Linked DNA regions of Homo sapiens. The protein of the gene in region 1 interacts with the protein of each later gene in a pairwise test. Each region holds a gene or a part of one and is shown in the gene's direction. Other genes may lie near its edges.

What was found. Proteins that work in one complex are often made in the same cells at the same time.
Region 2: the proteins of SDHA (region 1) and SDHAF2 interact in binary tests that used the Homo sapiens proteins (3 or more experiments, as listed by UniProt).

What each region holds. Positions count from the first base shown.
Region 1 is NC_000005.10:228,320-235,958, forward strand, and holds part of SDHA (succinate dehydrogenase [ubiquinone] flavoprotein subunit, mitochondrial), read left to right. Parts: coding exon 1-14; intron 15-2,556; coding exon 2,557-2,681; intron 2,682-5,157; coding exon 5,158-5,326; intron 5,327-6,824; coding exon 6,825-7,020; intron 7,021-7,639. UniProt on the Homo sapiens protein: Flavoprotein (FP) subunit of succinate dehydrogenase (SDH) that is involved in complex II of the mitochondrial electron transport chain and is responsible for transferring electrons from succinate to ubiquinone (coenzyme Q).
Region 2 is NC_000011.10:61,439,898-61,447,536, forward strand, and holds the end of SDHAF2 (succinate dehydrogenase assembly factor 2, mitochondrial), read left to right. Parts: intron 1-6,043; coding exon 6,044-6,174; 3' UTR 6,175-6,836; downstream 6,837-7,639.

The sequences.
Region 1 (7,639 bases):
GTTGTTGCCACAGGGTAGGAATCTCATTTCTACTTTATTTTGTTTATAAAAATGAATAAATTTCATTTAGAGTTTCTTTATTTTAATGAAAATAGAGGCATTGTAGAATAACGGTTTAGACACAGGCCTTGATATAACCATGTGAGGGTGATGGCCTTTCCCAGCCGTGGTTCCTCACCTGTAAAGGGTGAGGACAGGAGCACCTGCCTCAGGGTGAGAAAGCATGGTCCTCAGTAGATGGTAGTGGTTGCCCTCAGGTTCACAGCTTACCTCTCCCAATTTAGATGAGGGAACTGTGGCCCAAAGAGTCAACATGGGGTTTTCTGGCAAAATCTCTCTTGTTTTAGTGGGTACTGTATTGATACTGATTCCTCGGGTGGGTAAGTCCTTCTTCTCCACATGATGAAAATAAGTAACTTTAATTTTATACACTGTCAGTTACTTTAACCATTTTAAAAGTTAAAAAGTGTCAGTACAGCCAAACAAAAAATCAGCAAAACTACAGGTTGGGAAGAAATATTTTCCAAACCATATGTGTAATAATATCTTACTATCTAAAATAGCAAAAAAAAAACCCTACTAAAAACAACCTACTAAACCCTACTAAAAAACAACCCTACTAAAAATGGGCAAAGGACTTGAATAGATATTTTTCTAGAGAAGACATACAAATGGCCAATTGATGTATGAAAAAATGCTCAACGTCACTAAGCACCAGAGAAATGCAAATTAAAACCCCAATGAGATATCATCTCATCTCGCTCCAGTTAGAATGACTGTTACCAAGAGGACAAAAGAGCAAGTGTTGGTGAGGATGTGGAGAAAAGGGAACCCTGTGTGCTGTTGGTGGGAATGTAAATTAGTACAACTATTACGGAAAACTCTGGAGGTTCCTCAAAATTCATAGGACTACTATGTGCTCCAGCAACCCCATTTCTGGGTGTATATCCAAAGGGCATGAAATCAGAAGCTCAAAGAGACACCTGGACCCTATGTTCATTGCAGCATTATTCACAATACCCGAGATATGGAAACAACCTAAATATGTGTTGGTGTTTAATGACAATGTGGTGTGTATACACAACTGAATATTATTCGGCTATGAAAATGAAGGAAATCCTGTCATGTGTGACAACGTGGATGAACCCAAAGTCATTATGTTAAGTGAAACGAGCCAGGCACAGAAAGACAGATACTGCATGTCACTCATGTGGAATCTAAAACAGTCACAACTCACAGAAACAGAGTAGGACAGTGGTTGCCAGGGGCTGGGGGAATGCAGACTGTGGCGATGCTGATTAAAGGTGTAACTTCCCGTTACAAGGTGAAGTTCTGAAGGTCTAATATACAACATGGTGGCTATAGTTAACATTATACAGCATGGTGGCCAGAGTTAACATTATACAGCATGGTGGCTATAGTTAACATTATACAGCATGGTGGTTAGAGTTAACATTATACAGCATGGTGGCTAGAGTTAACATTATACAGCATGGTGGCTAGAGTTAACATTATACAGCATGCTGGCTATCGTTAACATTATACAGCATGGTGGCCAGAGTTAACATTATACAGCATGGTGGCCAGAGTTAACATTATACAGCACGGTGGCTAGAGTTAATATACAGCATGGTGGCTATCGTTAATATTATACAGCATGGTGGCTAGAGTTAACATTATACAGCATGGTGGCTAGAGTTAATATTATACAGCATGGTGGCTATCGTTAATATTATAACTTGAAATTTGCGAAGATAGTAGACGTTAGGCGTCTGTATCTCCAAAAAAAGGATAATTGTATGAGGTGATAGATGTGTATTAACTTGATTGTGTCATCATTTCACAAAATAAATCATCACGCTGTACACCATAAATATATAGTTTTTTTTTTAAATTCATCAATCATACCTCAGTAAATCTGGGGGAGAAAAAAATCCATAAAAATTTTAAAATTTTCATTATAAAAGTAGTATATGCTTATTGGGGAAACCTTTTGAACAGCACAAAGCTAAAATACAAATAGGGCCAGGTGTGCAGTGGCTCACGCCTGTAATCCCGGCACTTTGGGAGGCCAAAGTGGGAGGATCACTTGAGGTCAGGAGTTCGAGACCAGCCTGGCCAACATGGTGAAACCCCATCTCTACTAAAAATACAAAAATTAACTGGGCGTGGTGGTGCACACTGTAATCCCAGCTACTCGGGAGGCTGAGGCGGAAGAATCACTTGAACCTGGGAGCCGGAGGTTGCTGTGAGCCGAGATCGCACCACTCTACTCCAGCCTGGTCAACAGAGTTAGATCCTATCTCAAAATAAATAAATAAAATACAAATGGAAGTCCTTTCTTTGATCCCAGGCTTCTATCCTACCTGTGCAGGGTAGCAGCACCAGTGGCGCGGCCCCTAGTGATATGTGTGGGGTGTGCGTGAGTAGGGGGTTGTGTGTGCACAGCACTGAGAAGACGGTGCTGGGGGCTGCCGTGTCCATTCTGTGATCTCACCAGATAGGAGGTCCAGATGTGGGCCGCTGTGTGCAGTCACTGCTCTCTATTGTTTCCAGAGGCTACGGGCGCACCTACTTCAGCTGCACGTCTGCCCACACCAGCACTGGCGACGGCACGGCCATGATCACCAGGGCAGGCCTTCCTTGCCAGGACCTAGAGTTTGTTCAGTTCCACCCTACAGGTAGGGCAGGACGCCTTGCCCGGCAGGTGTTTGGCTTGTGTGTGTCTTGTAAGCATGTGATGCCTACTCATTGCTCTTCCATAGTTTTATGTAATAACATGGTTTTGAAGATCAGCTTCCTCAGCTCTCAGGTCCTAACTTCAACGTCATTTACCTAAGGAGACTTTTCCCACACTCCCCTTCCCCTAAGGCAGTTTGGGCCACCGTCTTATGTATTTCTCAAGAGCGCTAAACCCTGCCTTGGTGATACTTAAGCCAGCAGTAAAGCAGGGATTGAGGCCGAGCACAGTGGCTCACTCCTGTAGTCCCAGCACTTTAGGAGGCCAAGGCGGGCGGATCACCTGAGGTCAGGAGTTCGAGACCAGCCTGACCAACATGGTGACACCTCGTCTCTACTAAAAATACAAAAATCAGCTGGGCGTGATGGCGTGTACCTGTAATCCCAGGTACTTGGGAGGCTGAGGTGGGAGGAATGCTTGAACCTGGGAGGCAGAGGTTGCAGTGAGCCGAGATCGCGCCACTGCACTCCAGCCTGGGCAACAGAGTAAGACTCCGTCTCAAAAAAAAAAAAAAAAAAAGTAAAGCAGGGATTGTTCAGTGTCCCTCTTCGCAACGAGGTCGTCAGCTCCTCGGGCAGGCAGGTCTTCTCGTTAGCTGTGGTGCTCCATGCCCAGCACATGGTAGGGTCTCCACCGGGGTTTACTGAGTGAACATTCTGAGAGCTGGGAGAATGCCATGGAACCGAGAAGCAGCACAGGCAGACTTCAGCTTTGTAGGAGAACACGGAGCTTCTGTGACAATGGGATGTAAAGTTAGGACGCAGCCGTGACAGAACCCCATGTGACATTGGGCGCTGGGCTCAGCCCACGTGACCACTGAGAGAGCTTGTCGTGGGGAAGATGAGCTCGTCTTGGGGACGTCTGACGGTTGAGGTTACGAATGTGCAATTCGGAGACATTAACTCAGAAATGACAGTTGAAGTCTTGAGTTTGGAGGAGGTTCTTCAGAATGAGTCAGAGACAGACACACACCTGCCTCTTGTTTGAGGTGACTTGTCCTATACTTTTCTGGGTTGCTTTTCTGACCTGTGGACGATGGAGACCTCTGAAGTGGTGCCAAAGAACCAGACCTGTGTCTTCTCTTTCTCTGTCAGTGTCAGCTTTCTGATCCCTGGAAGGGATGAAAATAAGAAATGAATTTGTTGTAGTGTTTTTTTTTTATTTGTTTCGAGATGGGGTCTTGCTCTGTTGCTCAGGCTGGAGTGCAGTGGAGCAATCTTGACTCACTGCAGCCTTTGTCTCCCAGGCTCAAACGATCCTTCCACCTCAGCCTCCCAAACAGCTGGGACTACAGGCATGTGTTACCATGCCCAGCTAATTTTCGAGGGTTTTTTCGTTTTTGGTAGAGACGGGATGTCACCGTTTTGCCCAGGCTGGTCTCAAACTCCAGGGCTTAGGCCATCCTCCTGCCTCGGCCCCTCAGGGTCCTGGGATTATAGCCATGAGCCACTGCACCCGGCCTGTTGTATTTTTTATTACTGTTTTTAATGAATAAAATGTCACTGAGCCCCTGAATTCCCTCTGTAATTTGCTTAGAGCTCCACTGCTCATGCTTTGTCTTCAGTATGTGAGAAGTAACCACAGAAAAAAGAGCATTGAAACTTAGAAAATCAAAAGACAGACAAGAATCACATTCGTTTTTTAAAAGCAAGATTGCCCTTTTTGTATACTAATAAAAATTGTAGCTTTCGAAATACATTTAGTTTAGGGTTTTTGATCTCCTTTGTTAAAATTCGAGAGCTTGGCATGCCCTGTTTCTCATCGCACTGAGGAGTCACAGAGCCGCTGTTTGGAGCACAGACCGCCGGACTACCCAGGTTTGGGTTTGAGCTCTGTCCTCAGCTGCATGACTGGATGTTACCAAGTGTTAATTTGCTTGTCACTGAGAAAGGGGGTCGTACTACCCAGAGTTGTTGTAAGACTTAAACGAGTTAATATGTGGAAAGCAGCTAGAACTGCCCATAGCAAGTGCAGTGTAAATATTATCTAAAATAATCATTATTACTGTCCTTGTCACTGTTTGGATAATTTAGATATGAATACTTCAAGCTAGTATTCTTAACTAGTCACCACAGTATCATAGTGCAAAAGAATGTTCAAAAATTAAAACAAAATTTGAGGCATCCAACGTACACTGGGCTGTAATCAGAGTATTGGCCAGAGGTCTGTGGGCCGGCCTTTCTCCTCTCTGGGGACACCGCTCTGCCCCAGCCTCTGCTGCAGCTGTCAGCCTTGTCAGTGCTTTTTGTTATCCAGACTTTCTACTGTATCTTAACTGTCTTGCTGTGCAGTTTTGCACATAATGCCTTCTGCTTATCTTTTTCCTCTTTCCCCCAAAAAATGTCTTGAAAAAAATAATGCATTTGAAATAGAGATCTAGCAATTGTTAGGTAATAAATATGTGTGGTTTTTTGCAGGCATATATGGTGCTGGTTGTCTCATTACGGAAGGATGTCGTGGAGAGGGAGGCATTCTCATTAACAGTCAAGGCGAAAGGTTTATGGAGCGATACGCCCCTGTCGCGAAGGACCTGGCGTCTAGAGATGTGGTGTCTCGGTCCATGACTCTGGAGATCCGAGAAGGAAGGTGCGTGTGATTTACCACCAGCACTGTCTGAGCGGGCACACGGGCCGGGGTTGCTTCTGTGAGTTTCAGCACCGCTCGCCCTCACCTTCGTGTGCAGGCGCATGTGCACAGCCACCTCTCTTAGCTGCTGGCAGGCGTCTGTTAGTCTGCGATATTTTCCTAAAGACCTACATTTTGAAAATTTTAGCCAGTTTCTTTCTCAAATCTGTGGAACAGAGTTTCTCTTAGTGTGTGTGAGTATGTGACGGAGTATGGGAGAGAGAGACACACACCCAACCTGAAGTCGGCATGTGAGCCTTGGGTGTTGTGTCTGATACCCACAGATGTTTTTTGGCAGCTTTCAAAGTGTGTGGGTTATTTGGCTTTCAGTAAAACAGTTTGCAGCTCTTTCATTGCCTGACCCTGTTCTTTAATGTAATGACATTTGCTAAATATCTGCTGGTATGGCCTTTAGAGGTTTTACATTTTTATATTAAAAAAACAGAGAAGTCAGGTGGGGCGCAGTGGCTCACGCCTGTAATCCCAGCACTTTGGGAGGCTGAAGCGGGCAGATCAGGAGGTCAGGAGATCGAGACCATCCTGGCTAACACGGTGAAACCCCGTCTCTACTAAAAATACAAAAAATTAGCCGGGCGTGATGGCAGGTGCCTGTAGTCCCAGCTACTCGGGAGGCTGAGGCAGGAGAATGGCGTGAACCTGGGAGGCGGAGCTTGCAGTGAGCTGAGATCACACCACTGCACTCCAGCCTGGGCGACAGAGCAACACTCTGTCTCAAAAAAAAAAAAAAAAAAAAAAAAAACAGAGAAGTCAAATGGTTTTTTGGAATATGGTGGCCCTCCGTACCCATTGGTTCCACATGTGTGGTTTCAGCCAACTATGTATTGAAAATAAAATTGCATCCTTACAAATATGCAGACTTTTTTTCCTTGTCATTGTTCCCTTAACAATACAGTGTAACAGCTATTTACGTAGCATTTACATTGTATTAGGTACTATGAGTCATCCTGGAGTTGCTGTAAAACTTAAACGTAAAACTTGAAATGAGGATGATTTAAAGTATAGAGGAGGATGTGCATAGGTTATATGCAAATACTCTCCCATTTTATATTAGGGACTTGAGCATCCACGGATTTTGGTATCCGTGGGGGTCCTGGACCCAACCTGCCACGGATACGCAGGGACGACTGTATTTGGCATAGAGGCCTTTCTAATGCACTTACCAAGGACACCTGCAGCAGGCTGTGATCCCTGAGACGAGCGTGAGTTTAGTGAGGGCAGAGTTTTTGTTCTGGTTCTCAGCTGTGTCCCAGCACCTGGGATTGTCCCTGGCACACAGTAGCTGCTTAGAAAAGATTTGATGAGAGGGTGACCATACATGAGGGGAAATTTTCCTCAGTATCAAAACATGTTGAAACTCACACACTTCCAAGATGACGTATTCTCAGGTCTCCTGCCGTTGCCGTTCTCTGCCGTATGTGATGGTGTTCTGTCTTACCAGAGGCTGTGGCCCTGAGAAAGATCACGTCTACCTGCAGCTGCACCACCTACCTCCAGAGCAGCTGGCCACGCGCCTGCCTGGCATTTCAGAGACAGCCATGATCTTCGCTGGCGTGGACGTCACGAAGGAGCCGATCCCTGTCCTCCCCACCGTGCATTATAACATGGGCGGCATTCCCACCAACTACAAGGGGCAGGTGATGGTGCTGGCTCCTCCCCCACAGCTGGAAAGAAGGCTGGGACGACGGGGCCCACCTCGCAGTTGTCTCTTTAGATCTTACAGGAAAAGATAGATGTTTCCTTCAAGAAAGTACTGTATTGTTTTCTAGATTGCACTTTAAATTTCTATTACCGGAGGATGGAGGGGGCTTAATAATTTATTCCTCCTTAGTAAATTGTCAGAGATACATCATTTGCAGCTTTTTCCATTTTGTAATTACTTTCCTATATGATCTTGTGTTATTTCTAATGATCTTACACATCAAGGGATCTTTATAATTCATTCCTTTGAGTGGTTTGTGGTTCACACAGAGCTTGTCAGTCACTTAGGCTCCTTGTTGGGCGAGGTGGGTGGAAGCTGTTGCTCTCCCTGCGTAGACGAAGAGGTGAACGGGGTAGAACAGTCTGGAACATCAGTCTCCCCTGCTGATGTTCCTCCACCTGCCGTGCTCCTGGGTCTGAGCCGGAGCACAGGTGGTGAGGGCCCCGGGAACATGGGACACGGGGGACAGTCGCAGATGCTGACATTGGAGGTCCTCTGACCTGCTTGTAACAGCAGGTGCTCAGGGGCAGAGGGGAAACTGGGGGATACCTTCG
Region 2 (7,639 bases), on another chromosome or scaffold:
CTGTAAACATTTGCATACAGATTTTGTGAACATAGGTTTTAGTTTTTCTTGAGTGAATACTCAGGAGAAGGATTTGCTGGGTCATGTGGTAAGTGTATATGTTTAACTTTATAATAGGGCCAGGTGTGGTAGCTCATGCCTGTAATTTCAGCATGAGATCACATGCTCCTCCTCTGGGAAGCCGAGGCAGGTGGATCACTTGAGGCCAGGAGTTCGAGACCAGCCTGGCCAGCATGACAATACCCCGTCTCTACTAAAAATGCAAAAGTTAGCCGCGTGTGGTGGTGCGCCCAGCTACTCTGGAGGCTGAGGCAAGAGAATCTCTTGAATCCGGGAGGCAGAGGTTGCAGTGAGCCAAGATCACGCCACTGTGCTCCAACCTGGGCGACAGAGTGAGACTCTTTCAAAAAAATAAATAGGGCTGGGCGCGGTGAGTCAACACCTGTAATCCCAGCACTTTGGGAGGTCGAGGCGGGTGGATCACCTGAGGCCAGGAGATCGAGACCTTCCTGGCTAACACGGTGAAACCCCGTTTCTACTAAAACGACAAAAAATTAGCTGGGTGTGGTGGCGGGTTCCTGTAGTCCCAGCTACTCGGGAGGCTGAGTCAGGAGAATCGCTTAAACCTGGGAGGTGGAGGTTGCAGTGAGCCAAGATTGGGCCACTGCACTCCAGCCTGGGTGACAGAATGAGACTCTGTCTCAAAAATAAATAAATAAAACTTTTAGTACATTTTTTCTGTAATAGGTAAATATAGATAGTAAGCTTTTTCTATAATAGGTAAATATAGATAGTAAATACAGATAATGAATATTTTAGGCTTTGCAGGCCATACAGCCTCTCATAACTACTCACCTCGACCTTTGTAGCATGAAAGCAGCCACAGATAGCAGGTAAACGAATATGATTGTGTTTCAATAAAACCTTATTTGTGGACACTGAAAATAGAATTTCATACTGTTTTCACCAGTTATGAAATATACATTTGATTTTTTTTCCCCAACCATTAAAAAATCATTCTTGGCTGGATGCAGTGGCTCACACCTATAATTCCAGCGCTTTGGAAGGCTGAGGCAAAGGATCTCTTGAGGCCAGGAGTTTGGGACCAGCCTGGGCAACATAGACCCCCTATCTCCAAAAATAAAAATAAGTTAGCTGGGCTTGGTGGTGCACACTGTATTCCCAGCTACTTGGGAGGATCACTTGAGCCCAGGAGTTCAGAGACTGCAATGACCTATGATCACGCCACTGCATTTCAGCCTGGGCAAGAGTGAGACCCAATCTCTAAAAATCATTCTTAGCTCACAGGGCATAGTTTGCCAGCTTCTGTGCTAAGCAAAAGAGGTCAAACTCAACCAGACGCGGTGGCTCACGCCTGTAATCCCAGCACTTTGGTAGGCTGAGGTGGGCGGATCACGAGGTCAGGAGATTGAGACCATCTTGGCCAACATGGTGAAACCCCGTCTCTACTAAAAATACTGGGCGTGGTGGTGGGCGCCTGTAATCTCAGCTACTTGGGAGGCTGGGGCAGGAGAATCTCTTAAACCAGGGAGTCGGAGGTTGCAGTAAGCCGAGATCATGCCACTATACTCCAGCCTGGGTGACAGAGCGAGGCTCCATCTCAAAAAAAAAAAAAAAAAGATCAGACTCAACAAGTACATACTCAGTACATAATTGGACTCCAAGAATGTGATTCTGTTTACATGATAATCTGAAAAAGGCAAAACTTACAGGGACAAATCAGTGATTGCCAGGGTGTTGGATGTGAAGGGAGGGGTTGGTGTTCCACATCTTTACCCACACTTTGTATTATCAGGGTTTTGTTTTTGTTTTTAGCCATTCCAAGAAGTATATATTGGTACATCACTATAGTTTTAATTGGCATGTCCCTAATGACTAATAATATTGAGGATCTTTTCAAGGGCTTATCAGCCCTTTATGTATATTTGGTGACATGTCTCTTCAAATTCCGCCCCCCACCACTCCTCCCTTTTTTTTTTTTTTGAGACAGGATCTCACTCTGTCACCCAGGCTGGAGTGCAGTGGTGCAGTCATGGCTCAGTGCAGGCTCCACCTCCTGGGCTCAAGCGATCCTCCCACCTCAGCCTCCAGAATAGCTGGGACTACAGGCCGGCAGCACCATGCCCAGCTAATTTTTGTTGTTGTTGTATTTTTTGTGGAGATGAGGTTTTGCCATGTTGCCCAGACTGGTCTCAAACTCCTGAGCTCAAGCAATCCACCTGCCTCGGCCTCCCAAAGTGCTGGGATTACAGGTGTGAGCCACCATGCCTGGCCAGATTTTCCATTTTGGAAGATACTTTCACTGGATATAGAATTCGAGGGTCACAATGTTTTTTCTTCTGTTAAATAGAAACACTTCTACCGCCAGCTCTTAGTGTACAAGATCGGGTAGTCAGGAGTTCCGCTGGGTTTGGACTTTGGTTTTGCTCTGGTTACCTTCAGTGCATCACCAGCTTCATATTCCCTCCGGTGTTACCATGTGCTGTTTTCTCATTTCCATAGTTTGTGACGAGGTCTGCTGTATCTTTGTTCCTTTTTATGTGTCTTCTCTTTCTGAATCTTTTCAATATTTTGTCTTTGGTTTCTAGCCGTTTCAATATTATATACATAGGTATTTATTTGATATTTATATATGTAGGCATTTGATATTTATCGTGCTTTTGGGTTCTCTGGGCATCTTGGATCTGTGTTTTCATATCTTTTATTATTGTTGAAAAATTCTCAGCTGTTACCCCTTCAGCTATTTCTTCTGCTTTGTTTTCTCCCTCTTTTCCTTCTAGGATTCTAGTTATACTTAGTTAAATGGTTTAATATTGTCCAACAGCTGTTGTGGGGGTTTTGTTTTTTGTTTTTTTGAGACAGTCTTGCTGTGTCACCAAGGCTGGAGAGCAGTGGCGCAATCTTGGCTCACTACAACCTCTGCCTCCTGGGTCCAAGCGATTCTTGTGCCTCAGGCTCCTGAGCAACTGGGACCACAGGCACGTGCCGCCATGCCTGGCTAATTTTTTTGTATTTTTCACAGAGACGGGTTTCACCATGTTGGCCAGGCTGGGCTTGAACTCCTGGCCTCAAGTGATCCGTCTGCCTCAGTCCCTTAAAGTGTTGGGATTACAGGCGTGAGCCACTGTGCTCAGTCTGTCCAACAGCTTTTGGGTTCTCTGTTTTGTGTTTTTTATTCTTTTTTCTCTTTGTGCATCAGTTTGGGTTATTTGTATTAGATAATATCTATTGACCTGTCTTCCACTAATTCTTTCCTTGATGATGTCAAATCTCATGATGGGCCTGTTGAAACCATTCTGCATATCTGCTACTGTATTTGTTTTTAGCATTTCCATTTGACTTTTGGAGTTTCCAACTCTGCTAGAATTTCTCATCTGTTCATACATTTTGTCTGCTTTTTCCACTGGCGCCTTTAATATTAGTCATAGTCATTTTAAATTCCCTGTCTGATAGTTCTAACATCTGGGTCATCCCTCAGTCTGCTTCTGTTGATTTCTTTGTCCCTTGACAGTGTGTTGTTTTTTTCTTCTTTTGTGTATATGTCTCGTAATTTTCTCATAATTGTATTTATGCTTACAATTGGGGATGCTTCTTCTACTTTACTGTTAGTGTGGGGATCAAGTCAGTGAGTTGGGAGGTAAGCTCAGCTTGGGTTGTTTTTGCTTTGGTTACCTTCATTGCATTACTAGTGTCTAGCGTTAACGTGTGCTTAGAGTGGAAGCTGGCTCTGTCGCCCAGGCTGGAGTGCAGTGGCACCCTCTCGGCTCACTGCAACCTCCACCTCCCAGGTTCAAGCGATTCTCCTGCCTCAGCCTCCTGAGTAGCTGAGACTACAATCACGTGCCACCACACCTGGCTAATTTTTTTTTTTTTTGAGACGGAGTCTCACTCTGTCACCCAGACTGGAGGCAGTGGCGCGATATCGGCTCACTGCAAGCTCTGCCTCTTGGGTTCATGCCATTCTGCTGCCTCAGCATCCCGAGTAGCTGGGACTACAGGCGCCCGCCACCACGCCCGGCTAATTTTTTGTATTTTCAGTAGAGACGGGGTTTCACCGTTTTAGCCAGGATGGTCTTGATCTCCTGACCTCGTGATCCACCCGCCTCGGCCTCCCAAAGTGCTGGGATTACAGGCGTGAGCCACTGTGCCCAGCCTGTGTCTGTGGTTTTATACACTCATGCTAGCCCACACTTGGCTTTTAACAATTCATTGCAAATTTTAGTGGCACAGGCCTGCAGTCCCAGCTGCCCTGGAGGCTGAGGCAGCAGGATCGCTGGAGCCCAGGAATTCTTGGCTGCAGTGCTCTATACCAATCAGGTGTCTGCTGTAAAGTTGGCAACAGTATGTTGACCTCTCAGAAGCAGGGGACCACCCGATTCCCTAAGGAGGGGTGAACCAGCCCACGCTGGAAATGGGACAGGTCGAAATTCCTGTGCTGATCAGTGGTGGAATTGCACCTCTGACTAGCCACTGCAGTCTCCCCTGGGCAACATAAGGCTGGCCCTGTCTGTATTAATTTAAAACAAATTTTTTTGGCTGGGCGTGGTGGCTCACGCCTGTGATCCCAGCACTTTGGGAGGCAGAGGTGGGCGGATCACAAGGTCAGGAGACCAAGACCAGCCTGACTAACACAGTGAAACCCCATCTCTACTAAAAAAAAAAAAATTACAAAAAATCAGCCGAGCGTGGTGGCGGGCGCCTGTGGTGCCAGCTACTCGGGAGGCTGAGGCGGGAGAATGGCGTGAGCCCAGGAGGTGGAGCTTGCAGTGAGTCCAGATCGCACCACTGCACTCCAGCCTGGGCGACAGAGTGAGACTCGTCTCAAACAAAAAAAAAAATTTTTTTAGCTGAATTCCTTTTACCCATTTGTATGATGTCCAGTGTCTCTTCTTCCTGTGCCTGCCACAGGTGAGCAAGTGCATGGCTCTCGTTTCTCCTTTGAAGGGCCTCTTTTTCCTTAGGTTTCGTCTGTTGGGTTGCCTCGTGACCTCAGTTCTCTGATATCTTTGAGAAAAGTCATAATATTTGTAATTTATCTGGCTTTTTCTTGTTGTTACAGTGAGTGCAATATTCTTTCCAACTTTCTACTTTCTTGGGGGAAGCCAAAACCTCTTTGATCTTATGTTGATTGTCACATGAAAACAGAGCCCTCACTAGATGCCAGGCCCTGTGCTGAGTAAGGGAGAATCTGACTTGGTTTTGAGGAATTCTCTCTCCTGGCGTCGTACCTAGTGTTGGTGGAAGGGTAATTCTGGAGCACATTGCCTCGGCTTTGGCAGTGGGAGGCTTTGCTTGTAATTGGCATCTTAAATAAGTGTCCCAAGGGTGTAGAGAAAGGTCAGGGGGAGCAGCACACTGCCAGACCCACTGCCGTAGACTGAGGCTGGCCTTCTCATTCTTCTGACTCAGTGCCTATGTTGCCCGTTCACTGAAATCTGGTTCTTTAGGCTCATGACAGTTCTGTGTGCCTCCAATATCCTTCCAATAAATTCCTTTTTGCTTAAGTTTACTAGAGTTATTAGTTTCTGTCTCTTAAAACTGAGGACCTCTAACTGATAGACAAAGGAGAGAGCTTTTGTTTCAAGAGATATATACATTGCAAGGGAAAACACAATGTCTGGGGAACAATGGAATTGCCAAATGCAAAGCAAAATAGTACAGCCAAGATTGTGCGGGCCAGGGGTCAGCAAACTTGTTCATAAAGGACCAGATAGTAAGTATTTTACTTGTAGTCATATGGTCTCTGTTGCAAGTACCCAATTCTGCTGTCATAACACAAAAGGAGCATGGGTAATATGTAAACCATTGGGAGCAGCTGTTCCAATAAAACGACTTGCAAATATAGGCTCACACAGTTTGCCACCCCCTGGTATAGGCTAACATCGTGTATATTTAGAAGAAGGATGGAGACAGTCTATATATCCATCTGTGGTTCTTGGCCAGTGTTTCGAGTTTTAAGATTCTCATACCTGAGCATTGACTGACTATGGCATAATTTTTTCTGCCCACTCTTCTCTTGCAGAAGCTAAACCAGCCCCAGAAATATTTGAAAATGAAGTCATGGCCCTGCTGAGAGACTTTGCTAAAAACAAAAACAAAGAGCAGAGACTGCGTGCCCCAGATCTTGAGTACCTCTTTGAAAAGCCACGTTGAGCTGTGCTCCACGGCCTGGCATGGGGGTTCAGTCTGTGGATGGTAACTACTTATGATGGACGTTAGCCTTGCTTCCGGCTTCTTAGATGCCCAGCTGCCCTACCCCAGACCACTGGTCCTGCCTCAAGTGATGGACATAACCCTCTCCTAGGACATACATGTAAATGCACAATGTGACTCATTCTCATACTTTTTTGTTCAGCTCTGAGCCTCAAAAGTGATTTGTCAGCAGCGCTGGCATGCAGGCTTTGCCTGGCTGCTATCTCTAGAGGCAAGTCTGCCACGAGAGGGCACTGCAGGCGAAGCAGTTGTGCTTGCTCATTGCCTCAGCCCAAGTGTACTCAAAGAAAAGAGGCAGCCAGCTGTGCGTGCTGTATGGAAAGCCTCCCGCCCTCCCTGCAGCTCCCCGCCCTCAGTGGCCCAGGGCTTTGTTGAAGTGGAACTCCCCACTTCCAACCTGGTATGGCTCCTTCTGCGAAGGGAAGCTGATCCCAGCCTCCTGAGCTGAATCCTTCAAAGGCACAGCAGGCAGAATGAGGGCCACAGGCAGGAGTGGTGTGGGCACACTGCTTAGGAGTCAACATCTTCATCATTGGGCTTTCTTTAAAACGTGCACTTTGTAATTTGAAAGAGAATTATTAAAGCATACTGAAAAAAGGAAATTTACAATTTCCCAGCCCTCACAATTAATTTTAATTTTGTCTATTTTCATATAACCCATAGTCATGTTTATAGAGTTTTACAAGTTCACAATTACAGGTTTTATTTTCATGTAGCACTATAGAAAACTTTCCCCCTCATTCCTACAGTCTTCACAATTAGTTGACTAAATAATAATACATAAGAAATAATATATTAGAATGAATTAGTTAGAAGTGTTTTTAAAAGCTCTAGGGCTGTGTGACTTCTGTGTTGCTAGTGGTGCCCTCCCTGGAGGGGTTTTGCCCTCAGAGCTGTAATCTAGGCAGTAGAATCAGTCACCCAGACTGGACCAGGTGCATCTAAAGGTGTTGACTAGAAGAAGGTCGGCCAGATTTGATGAGCAGGTGGTTGGTGATTATAGGAGCCGCACACAGGGACTACACACGCACATGTTTCCAGCATTGTTGAGCTCCAGGGTTCCTACAGAGCCACCTCATGGTTCCTGCCTGCTCTTCAGTATCCCTGGTGGCTCAGGAGGGAAGGGAAGAGATCTAGCCTTTACGTAATCACAGTTAAGCCTCACAGCACTCTAGACTAGTGGTGTTACCTGTATTTTATACATAAGAAAGTGGGCTCAGAGAGAGGAAGTAATTTGTCCAAGGTCAGGTAGCTATTGAGTCGAAAAAGCAGAATTTAGTATAGCTCAGTCTGCCTCCAAAGCTCTTGAACTTTCTACTAGAACACACTGCCTTACTGCTGGAAATTTAATAGAAGTCTCTGTTTGGGAAAGCTGTGGCAAATAGATGTGACAGTTCTGAGACAT